2 separate regions of the Homo sapiens genome follow, and region 2 is linked to region 1. The links come from fine-mapping of genetic effects on plasma protein levels. Region 1 holds a variant in brackets. A gene starts in the other region. All regions are shown on their forward strands.

Region 1 (9,878 bases):
ATAGAGCCTTCATCAGCTTAGCTTGTCCTCTTGCAGCCTACGCCACTCTGTGCCCTTTAGCCAAGGAAGCCCAGCTGAGGCCCCGCAGCGTCCCTGCCCAGCAGAGCTACAGGAGGCCCGAGGCCCCTTCCTGTTCACTCTTGCTCTATAGACGCCACGCTGCAAAGCAGATGTGCAGGGACACCACCTGAAGACCCAGCCTGCAGCTCAGCCCTACACACTGTGGATGGTGGAGATCCCAGAGGGCCAAGAGAAGCTTATTGAGACTTCTCTGCACTGCCCCTCCCACAGCAGGAGGTTCATGGCCCATGCATTTCTGGGAGGGTTGACAGGGCCCAGGTTGTGGAATACCTGTCTGTGAGCCCCATGTCCTGTCTTGTCCCAGCTGCCTGTAGTTTGACAGAGTATGCTAGAGGTCAGCCATTGCTAGGGAGGCTGCCACTAACCACACAGAGAGGAAGGAAAATTCTCAGCCACAGCACTTAGAGCTGAGCCTGACATGGTCCTCAGCAAGATGTTGCAAGTTCCTAATCTGAACACAGAGGCCAGGGAGTAAGCATCATCTGGAGCCCAGAGCTGACTGTCATTACCCACAAACATAAACACCCTGAGTCTGGCCTTCTCCCCACCCTGCCGAGGTTGTCAGAGCCTCAGCACTGGCTCTGCCCTGGGTGGCAGCCCCTGGGAAGCCCAGCTGCCACCTCTCTACAAATGGCCCTGTAGAAGCTGTGCTCAGTGATCCACTTCCTGGGGGGGGCTGGGCCCACCTTGTTGCCATTACACCCCATTACAAACTGATGCAACCAGCTTTCAACAGACACTGCCAAGGAAGATACACATTACAACAGCATGCTGCAATACCTCTGCCTGTGCAAGAGACTGACCCACATCCAAAAAATGGACATCTTCCCACCCCAGTGTCTCACTCCACTGAGCTGGAAGTGGCCTTTGTCAGGACCCTGTGAGGTCTTGAGTGGATCTGCTTTTCCCAAGATATTAAACCAGTGACTTTAAATCCTGGCTGCATATTACCATCATCTGGGATATTAAAAAATACTGATGCCTGGATCTTGCTCCCACCCAAAGAGTCTGACTGAATTGATGGGGTTTTCAAACATTTTTTAAGTGTTTGTTGAAGGATGACATACATGCAAAAAAAAAAAAAAAAGCACAAACCATAAGTGTAAAGCTCAGTGAATTTTCACAAAATGAATTTACCCCGAGTAACCAGCATCCAAATCATGAAACAGAACATCACCAGCAACCCCTGGTACCCCTTCCACTTACTACCTGGCTCCAAAGGCTAATGTCCATTCTGGCTTCTAATGGTGTACAGTCATTTCTCCTGTTTTCAAACTTTATATGATGTAAATGGAATCAGGCAGTATATATCCTCTTGTTGTGTTTGTGAGATGATTCATCCAAGTTGTTACTTAGAGCTGCAGTTTATTCACTCTTCTTGCTATAGAGTATTCCACTCTATGGATATTCCTCGATTTATCCATTCTACTGTGATGCATTTTTGGATATTCGAGTTGTTATTTATAATTCGGAACTATTCTGACTATTGCAATGACATGCTAGTGTGTATTTTTGGAGTACATGTATATCCATTGCTGGGGAAGCATGGGTATGAGTATGTTCAGCTTTAGTACCTTATGCCAAATAATGTTCCCAGGTGGCTGTACCCATTTACACTCCCTCCAGCAATGTATGAGAGTTCTGGTTGCTTCACATTTTTGCCAACCATAGATATTTTCTATCTTTTTCATGTTAGCCATTCTGGCAGGTATGTAGTGGTATCACAGTGTGGTTTGAATTTGCATTTCCCTGATGACTAATACAGCTGAGCAACCTTTCATATGTTTGTTAGCCATTTAGATCTTCTCTTTGCAAAGTGCCTGTTGGAATATTTGGACATGAGTATTTTTAAAAAGCTCCTTAGGTAACTCTACTGTGTAGCCAAGGTGGAAAACCACTGAACTAAAACCACAAATTAGTATCTGCGTCTCCCTTTCTTCATGATTTGCCTTTGAACTTAGAGCATTTTGGATCTGAGAGGACCTCGTGGAACTGGGAAAAGATTATATTCACTCCCTACTAAGATGAGCCTGTCAGGAAGAAGCAATTGGAGCTGGCAGTTAAGAATCTTTAGGAATGTGACCTCTACTTCAGAAGGGTCCAGGGAGGGCCTGTGGTGTCCACAGCTGCCACAGACATTTCCTAACCACAAAAATGGCCCCTTGGTGGTCTCCCCAGAGCTCCAGGCAGTCATGGGGAGGAAGCGGAGGGCCCCATGCCAGGTACTTCCCAGTTTCTAGGCCAACATGAATGGGACACAGCTCATATGGGGTTGTGGTTAGACTGGGGACAGTGGAGCATATGTTCTGGGGACCTGGGTGTGGCCAAGGGAGGCCTCCTGTCTGTGGCCTTTGTCCCAGATTGGAAATCAGCCAGTGGGGCTCTCCTACATGGGTCCAGGCCTGGCTAGCTCTTGAATTCTGTGCGTTTGCATGTGGGTCCTTATGCATGCGTCCTAGAGCAGGGTCCCAGGGGGCCACTCCCCCCCCCGACCCCTTACTCCTCTAAGCTGGGAAACACGTGGCATGAGAGAACACACTGTGGCTTCTAATGACATCGTGTCTTGATTGCATCCCCATTGCATCATCTGGGCTCATCTCATCCCCACCTCTGGACTGTAACATCATCCCAGGGACTGCCGGACACTCATCTGTGCTCCCCCACAGAGAGTATAATGCCATTTGGTAATTCAGTACAGCCTCTTCCAACTTGAGAAAGAAGATGCATTTCCTTCCCTCAGTCTTGAGCTGTGCAGGTGTCACGCTGAGCTGCCCTGTGTGGGCTCCATGTTGGCACACATCGGTTGCAAGGGGCTCTGTGTAGTGAGTCTGGAGTTGGACCACTGGCCAGGCGCTGGGATGCTAGTGCCTGGACTGAGTGTGCACAGAGGCCCCTCAGGCAGAGCCACAGTGGGCGCTGAACCTCCTGGTGAAGTTCACCGCAGTAACTAGAGCTCAGTGGGAGGGGCTGGCCTATCAGCACCTGTCCTGTGTGCTTTTTGAAAAGAGCAGGGTCTACCTTCTGTCAACTGAAGTCCTGCCAGCTGCATGGCATGAGATGAGGGACAAAGTGGCACGTGAACAAAGTTGACATTTTGGAGGCTGTTAGGCTCAGAGCCAACCCTGGGCTCCATGTAGTGCCATGACTCATGGATTCAGGCCCATCTTGGAAATTGCTCTGGGCGTAGAGCTCTCATTTCTGATAGTCCAAGTGCAGATATTGGGGTTCCTCTAATTGGCCCAAATGGTGGCCTGCACCAACCAGCGACCAGAGTGCTGTCTGAATCTAGAATAACAGGAAGAACACGCCTCCAGCAGTGTAGGAGAGTTCCCCATGCAGTGTGCTTCCCATTCTTACCAGCAGTTGGTATCTTCTGTCTTTTTCACACTGGCCATCTGAGTCTCATAAGGAGACTCCTCTCCTTCCACTGAGCCTGCATCCCAGCCTCTCCCCTTTCTTCAGGGACCTCTCCCCAGCAATTACGCCCTTCCATTCTCTCAACCAGGGAATCTTCAAACTCTTCTTCTCCACTGGCTCCTGCTGTGCTCCTGTCTCCATCACCTGTATAATGCTTCCTGCCATCCTGCCTTCCCCGTGGAGTACAGCCATGCTGTCTGCTGCTTACAGCCAAGATTCTGGAAAGAAATGTCTCCTTTTTCCTCGTCATCAACCACTCATTTATTCAGCAAGTGTTTCTTTTACACTTGCCTGTGCTGGGCATGGCAGCAATGCAGCAGTGAACAAAACCATCAGCCCTGCTCTCATGCAGCTTATAATCAAGTAGAGAGACAGACATAAATGATTAATAGATGCTCCTGTAATGGTGGTTGTGAGGTGTGCTGCCACAGCCCAGCCACACACGCCAGTTCCCTTCTCTGCACATGTACATGTCTGCTCATCCTTCCCACCTGAACTCATGTGCCACCTCACTTATGCCCCTTCCCAATGCCGCACCCACACAACAGGGTGTCCCTCTGTGCCCACAGCAGCCCTTGGGTATAACTGTTCCCCACAGAGGCTGAACCCCAAGGGCAGAGTCCAGGCCACACTCACCACGGAGACCCCTGCCTGGCACAGAGCCCAGCCCAGCAGAGATGCTCAGAAGATGAATGAAAGTCCCTGCTGAGATTGATCCAATCTGTTTGTGAACATCTCTGGGGTCCAAGAATTCACGGCTTTCTTTTTCTTTAGAGAGCCTTTTGTTTCTTTTTGCCATTATATACTATATTTGGGTTAGGGCACAACAATGTGAATATACTTAATACTGAACTCTACACTTGAAAATGGTTAAGATGGTAAAGTTTTAAGTTATATGTATTTTGCCACAATTTTTTAAAATGCAGAGCATAGGTACAAAGAAGGAAAAAAAGGGGGCAAGGTCCATTTTATTGAGAAATAAAGAACAAAGGGTTCAATTCAGAGAGGATTGGATTTTAAAACGTAATTTAGATTAGGGAAATGCAAATGAAAACCATAATAAGTAAGATACCACTTCACATCTGTTAGGATGGCTATTTTAAAACAACAAAAACAACCTGAAAATAAGTGTTGGCAAGGATGTGAAGAAATAGATACCCTTGTGCATTGCTATTGGGAACGTAAAATCATGCAGCCTTTGTTGAAAACAATGTGGTGGTTCCTCAAAAACTTAGTTATCATATGATCCCGCAGTTCCACTTCTAGGAATATACCCAAAAGAATTGAAAGCAGGGACTCAAAGTGATATTTGTACACCAGTGTTTGTAGCAGTATTATTCACAATAGCCAAAAGGTGGAAACAACCCAGATGTCCATGACA[A/G]GAGGAGTGGATAAACAAAATATGGTGAATATGTACAATGGAACATAATTCAGCTTTAAAAAGGAATGAAATTCTGGTACATGTTATAACATAGATGAACCTTAAAAACATTATGCTAAGTGAAATAAGCCAGACACAGAAGGAAAAATACCAGATGATCCCACTTATATGAGGTACCTAGAATAGTGAAATTCATAGAGACAGAAAGTAGAAGGATGGTTGCCAGGGGCTGGAAGGAGGAAGAACAGGGAGATACTGCTTAGTGGATGCAGAGTTTATGTTGAGGGTGATGAAAAAGTTCTGGAGATGGATGGTGGTGATGGCTGCACAACAGTGAGAATGTACTTCATACTATGGAACTCTGCACTTAAAAATGGTTAAAATGGATGTAGACATTTTATGTCTATTTTGCCATAACAAGAAAGTAATTTGGGTGTATTTTAGAGATTTTAGAAAATACTGTAAGCACAAGAGGAAAAAAATTAAAATCATTCGCAATCACCAGGTAGAGACAACGACTGTTGAAAGATCAGTGTGTATCTTTTCATTCTCGTTCTCTCTCTCAAAAAAGTGTGTGTGTGTGTGTGTGTGTGTCTTCAGATGTCACACTGGACTTTCAGGAAAGGTTCCCCTCTCTGCTGCTTCCCTGCTGGAGCCATGGAGAGCAAGTCTATCCCTGTTCCATAGGTCAATCCTTTGAATGATTTCTCATGGCTGAGTTCACTCCCCTGCACCTCCAGGGTTGCACTTCTCTGAAAATACTCATTTATTTTATGTGTCTACTAAAAACATGGCACCCACGACCCAATAATATGTTGGAAGGGGTTGGAGAGAGAAACGCGAGTACCTCTCACACCTTCTCACACACTACACATCTTAGCGATGGCCGAGTGAGCATGTTGGCTCTCTGGACTCCTCAGTCTGTTGGTCTGGGCTGCGCCAGGCTCAGGCTCCCTGCCTCCCCCCCAACCTTGATCCCCTTGCTTCTTGAACCTGATGCTGGGCCTCACATTCTCCGTTGATTCTAGCTCTTAAATCCTGCTTCTCCAGCTTGTCAGGAGGCTGTGCCCTCACACCCCAAAGAGCAGATCTGCCCTCTCCACTGAGAGGGAAGGAGTGAAGGTCCCACAGCCTCTGACCCCTGCTGGGCCCAAGAGAGGAACAGCTGCTTGCTTTATTTCTCGTGGGAGAAGTGTGTCTCCTCTTTGTCTCAGGCACCCCTCTGCCCTGTACAGCAGCAAGTCAGCAGGAATGAGCTGAGCCGCCCAAGTAGTGGCTCCCTCCACTATGGGGGCTCTGTGGTCCTGGGGGCTGTCCTGCCTCCACTGCCATAGGCCTGGCCCCAGAGCATGCTGCAGTGGTCACAACCTGTGGAGGTGCCCCCAGACCCCCATATTTGGGCCCAACTACAGCCTCCTTCCCCAGCTTTGCCACCTGGCTTGGGAGCCAGGGCACCACCAGCTTCACTGGCAGGGAGAGATGAAGAAAGAGGCCATAGCCACGCAAGTGACTGAAGTTCATGTTCGTGCACACCAATTAGAGAGGGACAGCACGTTCATTTACCTCCAAATCCAGCCACAGACACATCGCCCTTTTCTCTTGGCTCTGAGGCCTCCACAGAAGGGTTTTTTAAGGTTGCAGCCAGGACCTTTATAGCCTAGTCCTGAGAAGATTATCTTTTTATTGCAACTTTGATTAATGATTGATCAAAAACTGATACTAGAAACACTGAAGAACAAATTTGCTGTAGACATTAGGAAAGGTCTACATCTGGCAGGCCTGGAGACCTGCCCACCCTCTCCCCCCACGGTCAAACCAGGGCAAAGGTACATTGGAAGACCCAACCCCTACACACTCTTACACGTGCACTCGCACACACACACTGAGGGGAAAGAAATATTTAATTGTCCTTAAATCCTCTTGGATTAGGCTATAAATTGCAAATAAATGGAGCAACAGACAGAGCAAAAGCACATAAGGTCCTTTAATAGAATTTCTCTATCTTATTCTGTTTCTATGAATGCCTGTTACAAATTAGCAGCTTAAAGGGAAACCTGGAGTGTGGGAAAGAGCGACCCTTGTGTGAAGTCCACAGCCGGGGTTTCCTACAGACCTCAGGTCCCAGAGAACATCTAAGATGCCTCCAACACCAGATGGAGGAGGGCAGGAGATGCTGCACAGAGAAGCAGCACTTCCCGAGCATCTGTGGCAGGAAGTGACTTGGAGAGGATGAGGCCGTGCCTCAGGTGTGCTCTAGCTGTTCTGATGGTCTCTGAGGCCACGACTGCCATGGTGAGGTCCACAGCCTGCATCAGAATCACCAAAGGGCCCAAACGTACGGCCTCAGAGCCTGGAGAGCCAGGAATCGGCATTGCAACAACTCCCTGCTCAGTGGGTTCTACCAGTCCAGTACCTGCCCTCTGAGGGTGCCCAGGGAGCAGGGTGCTTGCTGGCTGGAACACTTTTTCCTGCCCCTCAGCTCCTCTGTGATGCCCTGAGGCACGGGCACTGGAAAGCTGGCAGAGCTGCTTCTAAATTGAAACTGGAAAATGAAACTGGAAATCACAGTTTCATTTTCCAGTTTCACTCGCTCCCCCTACTGTTGGGGTTTCTTTTCCACAAGGAGAGTCCCCCAGGGAGAAAGAAGCAGGAGTGGGAGTGGGGGAGCATGTTGGGGGAAGGCAGTGAGGGTGTCCTGTCTGCAGCAGGGCATGGAGGGGCCCCAGCGCTGCACTTGCTTCCTTTAAGCCTGGCCTGCTTGCTGTCAGCCCCGGGGGTGGTTTCCTCTCTAGGAAAAGCTAATGTCATGCTTATGCTGAAAAACTCTTTTCAGAGGTACTTTAGGAGGGGCCTGGCTCTCGATTAATCTGGGCCATTTCATACCGGCTGTGCTCACCCAGGCACAAACACTGAAAGCAACAGCTGGCAAAGCCATCGCTTGGTAGCAGCTTGGAAGACACCACCAAAGAAGCTCTCATGGAAGCGGCAGATTTCCTGAAGCGACTGGAATGCGGGGAAGGAGGGCAGTCGGGGAGAGCCGAGAACCAGCCCCCCTGCCAACTCCACCCCATTCCTCTCCTCACCTGAAATGTCTCATCCTTAGAACAGCTGCCCTAACCCCCTAATCCCACACACTCCTTTGTAGGTTAAGACCCCTGAAGTTGCACCCTCTCGTAGGAGCTATGTTTTTCAGAGATCCATGTGATTATTTGCCTAATGTCTGCCTCCCTCAGGGAAGTAAAGTCTGTGACGCGTGGACCTGGTCTGTGTTGTTCACTGTGCATCCACAGTGCCTGGGTAGTGCCTGGCATGCAGGAAGTACACACAAAAAATATGTGTTCATGAGTGAGGGCAGGCTTGAAGAGCCCAAGAGAAGGACAGTGCTCCAGGGAGGCGTCTGCATCAGGCTCCCCAGTGTCTGGACTGCATCCCAGCCCCTCCGAGCAACTTCAGGGGAGGATTCTGTGAACAGATGCCCCAGCTCTTCCGCCCACAGCTCCTACCCCCAGCCTGAGGAATGCTTTGACTGTCCCCAGTGTGTGCAGGCAGTGGGGAGGTGATAGGGGGAGGTGTCCCACATGGCACACTCTCCCTAGCCCTTGCTTTGCCTCCGTTACCTACATAGATGGGCTTCACAGCCTCTTCCAGATAGGCAGGGCACTGAGCTCTGTGGGCCACACCTAAAAAGAAAGGGAGACAAGCTGGCGGTGGGGGCATGACAGTGTTTTTGTTTGTTTGTTTGTTTTTTGAGATGGAGTTTCACTCTTGTTGCCCAGGCTGGAGTGCAATGGCGTGATCTCGGCTCATCGCAACCTCTGCCTCCTGGGTTCAAGTAATTCTCCTGCCTCAGCCTCCCGAGTAGCTGGGATTGCAGGCATGCACCATCACACCCAGCCAATTTTTGTGTTTTTAGTAGAGACGGGGTTTCTCCATGTTGCTCAGGCTAGTCTCGAACTCCCAACCTCAGGTGATCCACCCACCTCAGCCTCCCAAAGTGCTGGGATTACAGGCATGAGCCACCGTGCCGGGCTGACAGTGGTTTTTAAAGGGGGAGGGCAGATGAAGGACGTTGGTGGACCATCCTCTGGGAGGAGATGTGGACTGAGGAAGCAACGCTGACCTCAGGCCCCACACCACCCTTTCACCTCAGCCTCACTTTCTCATCAGTAAATGGAACTCGTTCTTGTGTATGTGCCATGGAGGCAATGTAGCAGAAGAGAATAGGGCAGACTTTGGAACTCAGCCATCTGGGAGAAAATCCTAGTTATGTGATGACCTTGAGCCAATGACTGAATTTCTCTGTCTCATTTTCTCTTCTGTAAAATGGGGACAATTACAGTGAATTCTGTGAATTCATTCATGTCCCTGACACATGGTGTGAGCTCAGTCATTACCTTTGCGAGGGTTGCAAGGATGTAATGAGATGGCAGATGTGAGCACAGCTCCCAGACCCGAAGGTGCTGTATGAATGGGAGGGAGCAGTGAGTGTTATTTGGGAAATATTGAAGACACAACTTCCCTCCCACATTTGTCTGGGGTGGAGCAACAGTTTTACTTATTTAATGATAAGCTGGAAGATGCACCAAAGGGAGGTGAAAAACTGAAACCGCCAACCGTTTGAGCTCCAGGCTGCACCGAAGCGGTGTGGCTGGTGCAGATGGTGAGAGCCCCAGTGCCGGCCCACTTCCTCCATGAGTGCCACACGCCTTTCTCAAGCTAGCCGGCTTCCCAAGGCTGCAGGAAGTGGGGCCAGGAACAGGCCCTCCGGCTGTGTTGGGGGAGGCCTGGGCAGGGGTTGGCAGCTGCTGGGTGTGAACGGAAGTCTTGGAGGTCCTTGAAGGTCCTGGGGCCGCCTGCACAGCAGCCCCTGCCCTCTCCCTGTCCAGGCCTGCCCAGGACTAGCTTGTAGCAGACTCTTCTTGTAGCCTAGGCTCTTGCCTCTTGCAGTAGTGAGCCATTGTACAAAAGACATCCAGCGGAGGGAGGCAGGCTGGAGAGG
Region 2 (9,565 bases), not on the chromosome of region 1:
CCCTTCGTCCTTCTGCTGGGCCCCAGAGGGGCCACCTTCCTTAACACTACTAAGAGGTACACCCGCAGTGGGGTGGTGACTTGGTTTTGGTCACCACCAGAGCAGGCTATTGAAAGTTACTATAGAGGTGTCACCTTGATGGCCACCAAGATGACAAGCTGCCCCTCCTTCACCACCTCGGCAACATGCCTCTGTCCTTGCAGCCCGGAGAGGGCTGTGGTCACTCCTGAGTCGCCCTTACCCAAAGGTGCCATGTGGAGCCCCAGTTTTACAGCTCTTTGTTGCTTTAAGCAAAATTTTAAAATGTTTGATCCGGGATTTCAGTCATTTTCAAGGACAGTGTAACTCAGATGACTCGGTTTGCCCTGTTTTGGGAACAACCCTCAGGCTCATTTTATAGATGTGAAAACTGAGGCTCAGAAAATTGTCTGCAGGCACACAAGCCCTAGAGGCAGGCTGCAGGTGGCCCACAGAACCCTAGGGGCAGACTGTTCAGCGGCACACAGAGCCCTAGAGGCGGGCTGCAGGTGGCGCACAGAGCCCTAGAGGCGGGCTGTAGGTGGCACTCAGTGCGTCCAATGTGGCTCCATCCCCTCCTGCTGCCTCTCAAGAGCAAAGTGGGGAAGGATGAAGGTGAGGTCCCCTGCACTCAGCCCTGGGGCCTCTACCTCCCACCAGGCTCAGCTGTCTGCTGGGAGGAGCTGAGGCCAGTTCCGAAGTCACTGGGGAGTGAGGCAAGCTGCTCCGCCAGGGCCTGCTGGATGCCAGGTGCTGGGACCCTGAGCTGGAGCCTCCCCCAGGCATCGATCCTGGGCCTTCTTTACCACCACACTGGGTCTCCCCGGGCCAGTCCAGCCCTGCTCCAGATGCCAGGCCCACCAGCCTGGGGGGCTCTGGGTGGCCAGGACCCTCTAAGTTACACCCTCTCGGAAGCTGCCCCAGATCACACTCAGCTCTGTGTGGCCTGGGCTCTCCTGCCCTCCACACCCAAGGCTTCGTGAGCTCAGAGCATGGCGATTGTGGGGACAGGGGATTTGTCATCCTGGCTCCCATCAGGGCAGCTGGGATCTTGACAGGGTGTCAAGAGGGGTGGATGGAGTGTGAGGCTGAGCCCCCAGTGGGCCGGGGCTCCCTATGAGCCCCCTCCAGGGGCCACTCCTCCTGGCACCTGGAGCCTCAGCAAAGGGAGGGCAGAGACTGCCATTAGGGGGCCATGCCATGCCATCAACTCCTGTATCCGGCCCAGCCCTGGGGGCAGCTGTCACCGGCTCCATTTTGCAGGTGTGGACTGAAGCTCTAGGGGTTGGGTGACTTGACTGAGTCCTTGGCAGGTGGTGGGAGAGGGAGTCAGCAGAGGAGCCTGTCGGCCTGGGTCTGTTCCTTCCTTGCTTGGGGTAGGGGTCTCAGGGACCCCCATGCTGCTTTATGAGTCCCAGGCCATGGTCTTTGTTGGAAGGCCCCCCCAACCCCCACAGAGGCTGGGATCCTGCTGACTCGGTGTGGTACCTCTCAGGAAGGAAGGGCCTCCGTGGCAGACCTAGCTATTTTGGGGGCTGCTGGGGGCCAGGGTGCTTCCTGCCACAAGGTGCTGGGCCCCCAAGTTTAGGGAGAACAGCAGTAGGGGTGCTGGAAAGTTTCACTTCCCTTGGCTGGGGTCCAGCTTCTGCATTTCAGTGAGTGTTTATGGAACAGAACGGGGTCCAGGAACCCTCAGAAACAGCAGCCCCCAGTCCTGGCAGTGTGTGCGCGTGTGTGCATGTGTGTGCATGCATGTGTGCATCTGTACATGTGTGCGTGTGCATGAGAGCATGTGTGTGCGTGTGTGCACTCACATGTGTACGTGACAGCATGCGTGTGTGCGTGCGTGTGTACATGTGTGTGCATGTGCATGAGTATTGTGTGCATGTGTGCATGTATGTGTACATGTGTGCGTGTGTGCATGAGAGCATGTGTGCGTGTGTGCGCATGTGTGACAGCATGCATGTGTGCGTGTGTACGTGTGTGCATGTGCATGAGAGTATTGTGTGCATGTGTGCATGCATGTGTGTGTACATGTGTGCGTGTGTGCATGAGAGTGTGTGTGCATGTGTGTGCATGTGTGCATGTGCTTGAGAGCGTGTGTGCGTGCATGTGCGTGAGCATGTGTGCGTGTGTGTGTGTTGTGTGCACACGTGTGACCTGGCTCTGGCCCCACCTCCCTGACAGGCTGTGTGACCTGGAGAGATTCAGTGCCCTCTCTGGGCCTTGGCTCCACCCTGTGAAAGTCCTGGCCAAGGGCAGCTGTGGGGAGTGAGGAACAAAGGGCGGGCACAAGCTTGAAAATGGGCACATGGAGACCCCAGCATGAGTGAGGGCAGAGGATGGTGATGTCATGGGCATCATCACGGGGGCCAATTTCCTCACTGCAGTTGGGGAAACTGAGACCCAGAGAGGGGTCAGAGCTGTGGTTCCCCCCTGTGTCAGCATCCAATTAGATCATGCCTCCCAGCATCACCTCATTGCAAGATGCAATCAGATCACGCCTCATTACCCTATGCTTATAAAACCTGCCCCAGCCCTCAGCTCGGGGAGACACTGCTTTGGGAGCTGTCTAGGTGTTCTCCTTACTTGTTGCAAGAAATAAAATCCCCTATTAAATCCTCTTTAGTTAACACCCGCCAAGCAACTGAGCCCACCCGTTGTGTGGGTAACAAAACTCTGGCGACCCAGATGGGGCCGACTGGGATTCTGATCCTAACTTCTTGAGGCTCACTAAGGTAAAGCAGTGGGCCGCGGCACCTTCCCCGGGCGAACTCACCCACGTGGCCCCAGAGGGTTGAGGGTGACTCCCGGGGATCTTCTGCTTGCTGCGTGGCCCGTGGGGCTGTCACTCCGCCCTACCCCCGAAACAGCGGAAGCAGCTGCCTGGAGCTTTTGTTCTGTGCTGCTCCTTCAGGGAAGAAAGTGGACTTTGCCCCGTGGGTTGACTGAAAGGGTAAATTCTTTGGACCTAGCAGTGGGATCTCTAGACTTCAGCGCAGGGCACCTCTGCTTTCGGTTTCTGTCTGGCTCTACGTGCCGTGGGGGATTGAGAGGCATCTCTGGCCAGGCCAAGGGCAACCCGGATCCCGGATCTGGGTAGACAACAGTGGGACTAGTTTTGGGAATTCGTTTTTTTTTTTTTGAGACAGAGTCTGGCTCTGTCACCCAAGCTGGGGTGCAGTGGCGCGATCTCGGCTCACTGCAAGCTCCACCTCCCGGGTTCACGCCATTCTCCTGCCTCAGCTTCCTGAGTAGCTGGGACCACAGGCGCCCGCCACCACGCCCGGCTAATTTTTTGCATTTTTAGTAGAGACGGGGTTTCACCGTGTTAGCCAGGATGGTCTCGATCTCTTGACCTCGTGATCCGCCCGCCTCGGCCTCCCAAAGTGCTGAGATTACAGGCGTGAGCCACCGCGCCCAGCATGAGAATTTGTTCTTTTTTAGAGAAACAGAATTTTTCACAGGAGGCTGAGCTGCTCCATCTCCCAGAGCCCCTACTTGCCATACCCCGGGTTACCAGAAACAGGAGCTCTGCCATTTGATGAAAAAAATACTTTTTTCAGATAAATGTTTTTGTCATATCATCACACAAAGCGGGTAAAGTTGTATATATATACATACAACTTTTTACAAATATGTGATCATATGTACAAAGGCTAGAAGGAAATATACAGAAAAATATGTATTAAAATACTGGTTTTTTTTCATTGTTTTATAAGATACTCTACAAAACATTACAATGAGGTAGGACTATTTTAGTGCTAGAGAATCTCATTAAATGAATTTGTTCAAGAGCTTCTTTGTCAGCTGGGTGCAGTGGCTCACACCTGTAACCCCAACACTTTGGGAGGCCAAGGGGGGCAGATTGCTTGAGCCTAGGTGTTCAAGACCAGCCTGGGCAACATAGGGAGACCCTGTCTCTACCAAAAAAAAAAAAAAAATTAGGGTGGGCGCGGTGGCTCACACCTATAATCCCAGCACTTTGGGAGGCTGAGGCGAGTGGATCACCTGATGTCAGGAGTGTAAGACCAGCCTGGGCAACATGGCAAAACCCCGTCTGTACTAAAAATACAAAATTTATCCAGGCATGGTGGTGGGTGCCTGTAATCCCAGCTACTTGGGAGGCTGAGGCATGAGGCAGAGGTTGCAGTGAGCCGAGATCATGCCATTGCACTACAGCCTGGGCGACAAGAGCGAAACTCTGTCTCAAAAAAAAAAAAAAAAAAAAATTAGCCAGGTGGTGGCACACACAGCTGTGGCCCCAGCTACTCAGGAGGCTGAGGCGGGAGAATCACTTGAGCACGGGGAGTTGGAGGTAATCGTACCGTGAGTACAGTGAGCCGTTATCGTATGGCTGCATTCCAGGCTAGACAACACAGTGAGACCTTGTCTCAAAAGAAAATAAATAAATAAATAAATAAATAAATAAATAAATAAATAAATAAAGAGCTTCTTTGTCAATATCCTTTTGTGGGTATACATCATAGTCCCACAGTACTTCTTCAACCCAGGGAGATAAATGTGTATTAGTCTGAAGACCCAGGAGAGAATCTTCAAGACTTGGCACTGTCACTGATGATGATCTGCTTCCTTACATTATGACAAATGTATTCCCAGCTCCGGCTTGTTCTGCCTCATTAAGAGAATATTTGAAGACATTATTCATGATAGCAGCATCAGCATTTTGCAGAAGAAACCCTGGGGACAGATGTCTGCATGAAGCACCTTTATTCTGTGAATAAACTGGTATTTTTTAATGACCATTTCCTGCAACTGGCAAAAGTCTCCGTTCAGTTCTACTCCACAGGGTTGCACTGCTAAGCTATAAGATCACCCCATAAAGACTGTGCTGAGCCTGGAGCTGACGTCAGCCACAGCCTTTCCTGATTGATCAGGGAGTGCATGAAGATAAATGAACTTCAATTCCATGAGGGAGAAGGAACGAGCAATCGGTCTAAAGGTTCTGTTTGGTGTGAACCACCCAGTAGTTTCTGCTCATTTTCCCTTTGTCACATAATGAATCAATGAAGTCTTTATCACAAAGGAATGCGTCAGCGTGAATGGTGGGTTCTGGCTGCTGCTGTAGTTTTTGAAGGGTTAGATGTTCTGAGGAAAGCATGGTTTCTAGAGGCAAGCAATTCTGAAGGTCTTCTGCAGTGGGTTTTTTTTTTTTTTAATTTTGAGACAAGGTCCGGCTCTGTCACCCAGGCTGGAGTGCAGTGGCTCGACTGTGGCTCACTGCAACCTCCAACTTCCAGGTTCAAGCAGTCCTCCCATCTCAGCCTCCCAAGTAGCTGAAACTACAGGCACGCACCCAGCTAATTTTTTTTTTGAGATGGGGTCTTGCTATGTTGTCCAGTCTGGTCTCAAACTCCTGAGCTCAAGTGATCCACCCCCTTCAGCCTCCTAAAGTGCTGAGATTACAGGCATAAGCCACCACACCCAACCTTTCTGCTGTGTTTTTAAACACAATGTCTTTATTTCCTTCAGTGAATTCATCAAAATCTCGGGCAGTTTGCATCTGCTGGAGCAGTGCCGGGCGGTCGGCAGAGCCACAGTATAGAGCAGTTACAAGATTTCCTGCCTTGCCGAGTGAAATCTATGCCTTCCAATTTTTTTTAATTAATTAATTTTTAAAAAATTAGATTGGTACAAAAGTAATTGCAGTTTTTGCCATTACTTTCAATGGCAAAAACAGCGGTTACTTTTGAACCAACCTAATATTATAGAGACAGGGTTTCACCATCTTACCTAGGTTGGTCTCGAACTCCTAAGCTCAAGTGATCCACCCACCTCGGCCTCCCAAAGCGTGGTGATTATAGGCATGAGCCACCATGCCCGCCCCTCCCCACCAATATATTTTTAAAACTAGTTGAGTGTGGGCCAAGAGTTGTGGGATCTGTGTCACCACCAATCCCGCCTCTAAGCTGCTGGGTGGGTAATATGGGAAAACAGTAATTGTAGCAGGACTCCAGTGGCAGAAGCCATGCGGATAAACTACAAAAAGCAGAAGGGACACTGGGGATGCTGACATCTCCATTGGTTGAGATTACCCTTAAGGTATTGAGCAACTGTGGCCAGGTCCAGGAAGGGCAAAAAAAAAACAAAAAACAAAAAACAAAAAGGCAACACAAGACAAGAAGCCATCGAGTCTCTTGGCTACAACCAGCCAGTACACAAGAAACAGTTCACTGCGGCCAGGCGTGGTGGCTCATGTCCGTAATCCCAGCACTTTGGGAGGCTGAGGCGGGAGGATCACCTGAGGTCAGGAGTTCAAGACCAGCGTGGCCAACATGGCTAACCCTGTCTCTACTAAAAATATAAAAAATTAGCCAGGCATGGTGGTGGGCACTTGTAATCCCAACTACTCGGGAGGCTGAAGCAGGAGAATCGCTTCAACCCAGGAAGCGAAGGTTGTAAGCTGATATCGCGCCATTGCACTCTAGCCTGTGCGACAAGAGCAAAACTCTTTCTTGAAAAAAACAAAAAACAAAAAAACAAAACAGTTCACTGGAGATGATCAGCCATAAGTAAGATCCCTAGGGACCCCACTGCCCGGCCAAAGGGCCTCCCGCCCTTGAGAACACAACAGTGTGCATATTGTAAACAAGAGGGCCATTGGGTACTAGAGTGTCCTAACTGTCCCCAGTGGGTAGGGAAAGAAACTTCCCCGTCAATCAGCCCACCAGATGCTACAGTTTGCTAATAGTGACCAGAAGTGATGGGACTTGGGGACTCCTCTATGATCTGGGAACCCCTAGATCGGGTAACAATTGCTGTGGGAGAGACTCACGGGTTTTCCGACACTAGAGCCAAATTTTTGCCTGTCTCCTTTCTACCGTGTTCTTCCTAAAATTTAGGAAAGGGCTTCTGCTGTATGGGAGAGATAAATTTTAGCTAAAATTGTTAGTTGGACGGAGACAGAGTTGGAACTGTCTTTTAAGTAGTGAATTTTACCTGACCCATGGCTAAACCTTTAAAAGTTAAAGCTATAGGATCGTTATTTGTATCTGGTAGTATGTACACGTCCGGTTATATTTGGCTATGGTACCGAATTGGCTTATAAAGAAATGAGTACTCATAAACTAAGCAAATAAGACCAAGTGCTTTTCAAGTTCACATGACAGTAATCTTTTGGTGAATGGAACTAGTCTAAAATTGTTGGTTTGATGGGAATGGTGTGCCTTCTGAAATGTAACTTAAAGGTTCTTACTTTTTTTTTTTTTTTTTTGAGACGGAGTCTCGCTCTGTCGCCCAGGCTGGAGTGCAGTGGCGTGATCTCGGCTCACTGCAAGCTCTGCCTCCCGGGTTCACGCCATTCTCCTTCCTCAGCCTCCCGAGTAGCTGGGACTACAGGCGCCTGCCACCACGCCCGGCTAATTTTTTGTATTTTTTTTTTTTTTTTAGTAGAGATGGGGTTTCACTGTGTTAGCCAGGATGGTCTTGATCTCCTGACCTCGTGATCTGCCCACCTCGGCCTCCTAAAGTGCTGGGATTACAGGCGTGAGCCACAGCATCCGGCCTTAAAGGTTCTTACTTTTATGATAGTTGCCTGACATCCAGCTATATAAAGGTAATTAACAGATAAATAATTTGAAATGATGACTAGCTTTGTCTAATATATCAGTTCTCATAAGTAATCCTGGTAAACTGCTAAAAATAAATAAAGTATGTAAAGGTAAATGGGATAAGTATCTATCGGCTTTTTAATGTAATTTGAAATCCTCTATTAGGTAATGGATACTCATTAACTATGTGAGTTATTTCCAAATAAGACAAAAACTGGAACAAATTGCTGACCATAAATATGTTTGCCCTGGGTCTCTTAAATTTAATATAAAGACTAAATATGTTTGGGCCTATAAATACGTATAAAAATTATGCTATAGGAAAACATGTTTTTCTAACAATTACAAAATGGCTCTTCCCCATAAAATACCAATATGTGATAGGAAGTTCAAGATTTTGTGCTTCCTATGTTTTCAACAAAATTTAAGGGAACTGGATGGGCACTGTGGCTCATGCCTGTAATTCCAGCACTTTGGGAAGCTGAAGCAGGAGGATCGTTTGAGATCAGGAGGTTCAGACCAGCCTGGGCAACATAGTGAAACTCTGTCTCTACTGAAAAACAAAAAAGAAAAAATTAGCCAGGGGTGGTGGCACATGCCTACTGTAGTCCCAGCTACTCAGGAGGCTGAGGTGGGAGGATCACTTGAGCCAGGGAGGTCAAGGCTCCAGTAAGCCAAAATCAATGCCACTGCACTCCAGCCTGGGTGATGGAGCACGACCTTGTTTCAAAAAAAGAAAAAAGATAATTAAAAACAAAAATTTAAGAGTACTAAGGGTTTTTAAAAATCCTAATATACAATTCTATATAGGAAGTGTGCCAAAAGTAAGGAGCACTTAATAAGAAAACAGTAAGAAAGGTATACAATATATTCTTTATTGAGAAAAAAAGTAATTTGTCTAATTTAGCTGTTATTTAAAGGGAGTTTTAAAATATGGATTTAGGAAAGAAATAGAAAAAAGATTAAAAGGAACCAGTAAGTAGATGAGACAGAGATGTAAAGAAAATTACAGATGTGAAGCAATGAGAGTAATTTTGTATAGGAAAGAAACTTGTGTGTTCAATCTCTGTCTTGGACTAAAATGACTAGACATTTAAGAAAGAGGAAGTACAGGGCAAGTCCAAGCATGCCACAGCTGTCTGAGTAAGTCATGATAAGGCTTGTGAATGGGAACTTATGATGGAAATGTTGGGTGTGATTAAATTGGCTGTAATTAAATGAAATGATTTGTAATAGTTTTTTTTTTTTTTGAGATGGAGTCTGGCTGTCTTGCTCATTTGCCAAGGCTGGAGTGCAGTGGTTCGATCTTGCCACACTGCAACTTGCATCTCCTGGGTTCAAGTGAGTCTCCTGCCTCAGCCTCCTGAGTAGCTGGGATTACAGGCGTGCACTACCATGCCTGGCTAATTTTCGTATATTCAGTAGAGATGGGGTTTCACCATGTTGGCCAGGCTGGTCTTGAACTCCTGACTTCAGGTGATCCTGGCCTCCCAACGTGCTGGGATTACAGGCATGAGCCACCATGCCTGGCCTGTAACAGTTTTTCTAGAGAATGAATTTGAATGTTAAAACACATGATACATAACTTACAATTTTGGTCCCCTGTGTTAAAACAACAGTGGTTTCGGCTGAGCGCAGTGGCTCATGCCTGTAATCCAGGCACTTTGGGAGGCCGAGGCAGGTGGATCATGAGGTCAGGAGATTTGAGACCAACCTGGCTAACATGGTGAAACCCCGTCTCTACTAAAAATACAAAATATTACCCAGGCTTGGGGGCGTGCACCTGCAGTCCCAGCTACTCAGGAGGCTGAGGCAGGAGAATGGCGTGAACCCAGGAGACGGAGCTTGCAGTGAGCCGAGATCACACCACTGCACTTCAGCTTGGGTGACAGAACGAGACTCCGTCTTAAAAACAAACAAACAAAAAACAGCAGTTTCTTAAGACATTAATTCACTCTTAGTAAAGTTCCAAGAGG

Direction of the effects. Positions count from the first base shown, and alleles are read on the strand shown. Strength reflects both the effect of a copy and how common the allele is.
For the plasma level of the protein whose gene starts at base 2,945 in region 2, allele G in region 1 goes with a lower level than allele A (weak association).

Evidence for each region. PIP is the posterior inclusion probability: the model's chance that the variant is causal. The UK Biobank Pharma Proteomics Project read protein levels with antibody pairs (Olink). The fine-mapping took linkage between variants from a reference panel, not from the people measured, so its PIPs are less certain.
Region 2: it holds the start of ACY3, and the variant in region 1 is fine-mapped to the plasma level of the ACY3 protein (UK Biobank, PIP 0.99).

The regions. Positions count from the first base shown.
Region 1 is chr5:132,456,976-132,466,853 of GRCh38, forward strand. All of the region lies in intron 3 of CARINH (colitis associated IRF1 antisense regulator of intestinal homeostasis), which reads left to right. Among named protein-coding and RNA genes, the nearest start is that of IRF1, 29 kb to the right of the region's middle. RefSeq lists enhancers at 1-108, 109-778, 7,001-7,965, 7,855-7,924, 7,966-8,930 and 3 more. The variant A/G (reference allele first, on the strand shown) is at 4,880.
Region 2 is chr11:67,647,786-67,657,350 of GRCh38, forward strand. ACY3 (aminoacylase 3) reads right to left here and starts at 2,945. Exons shown (of 8, transcript NM_080658.2): 1 at 2,798-2,945. RefSeq lists enhancers at 327-406, 817-1,339, 867-1,286, 3,017-3,096, 3,167-3,226.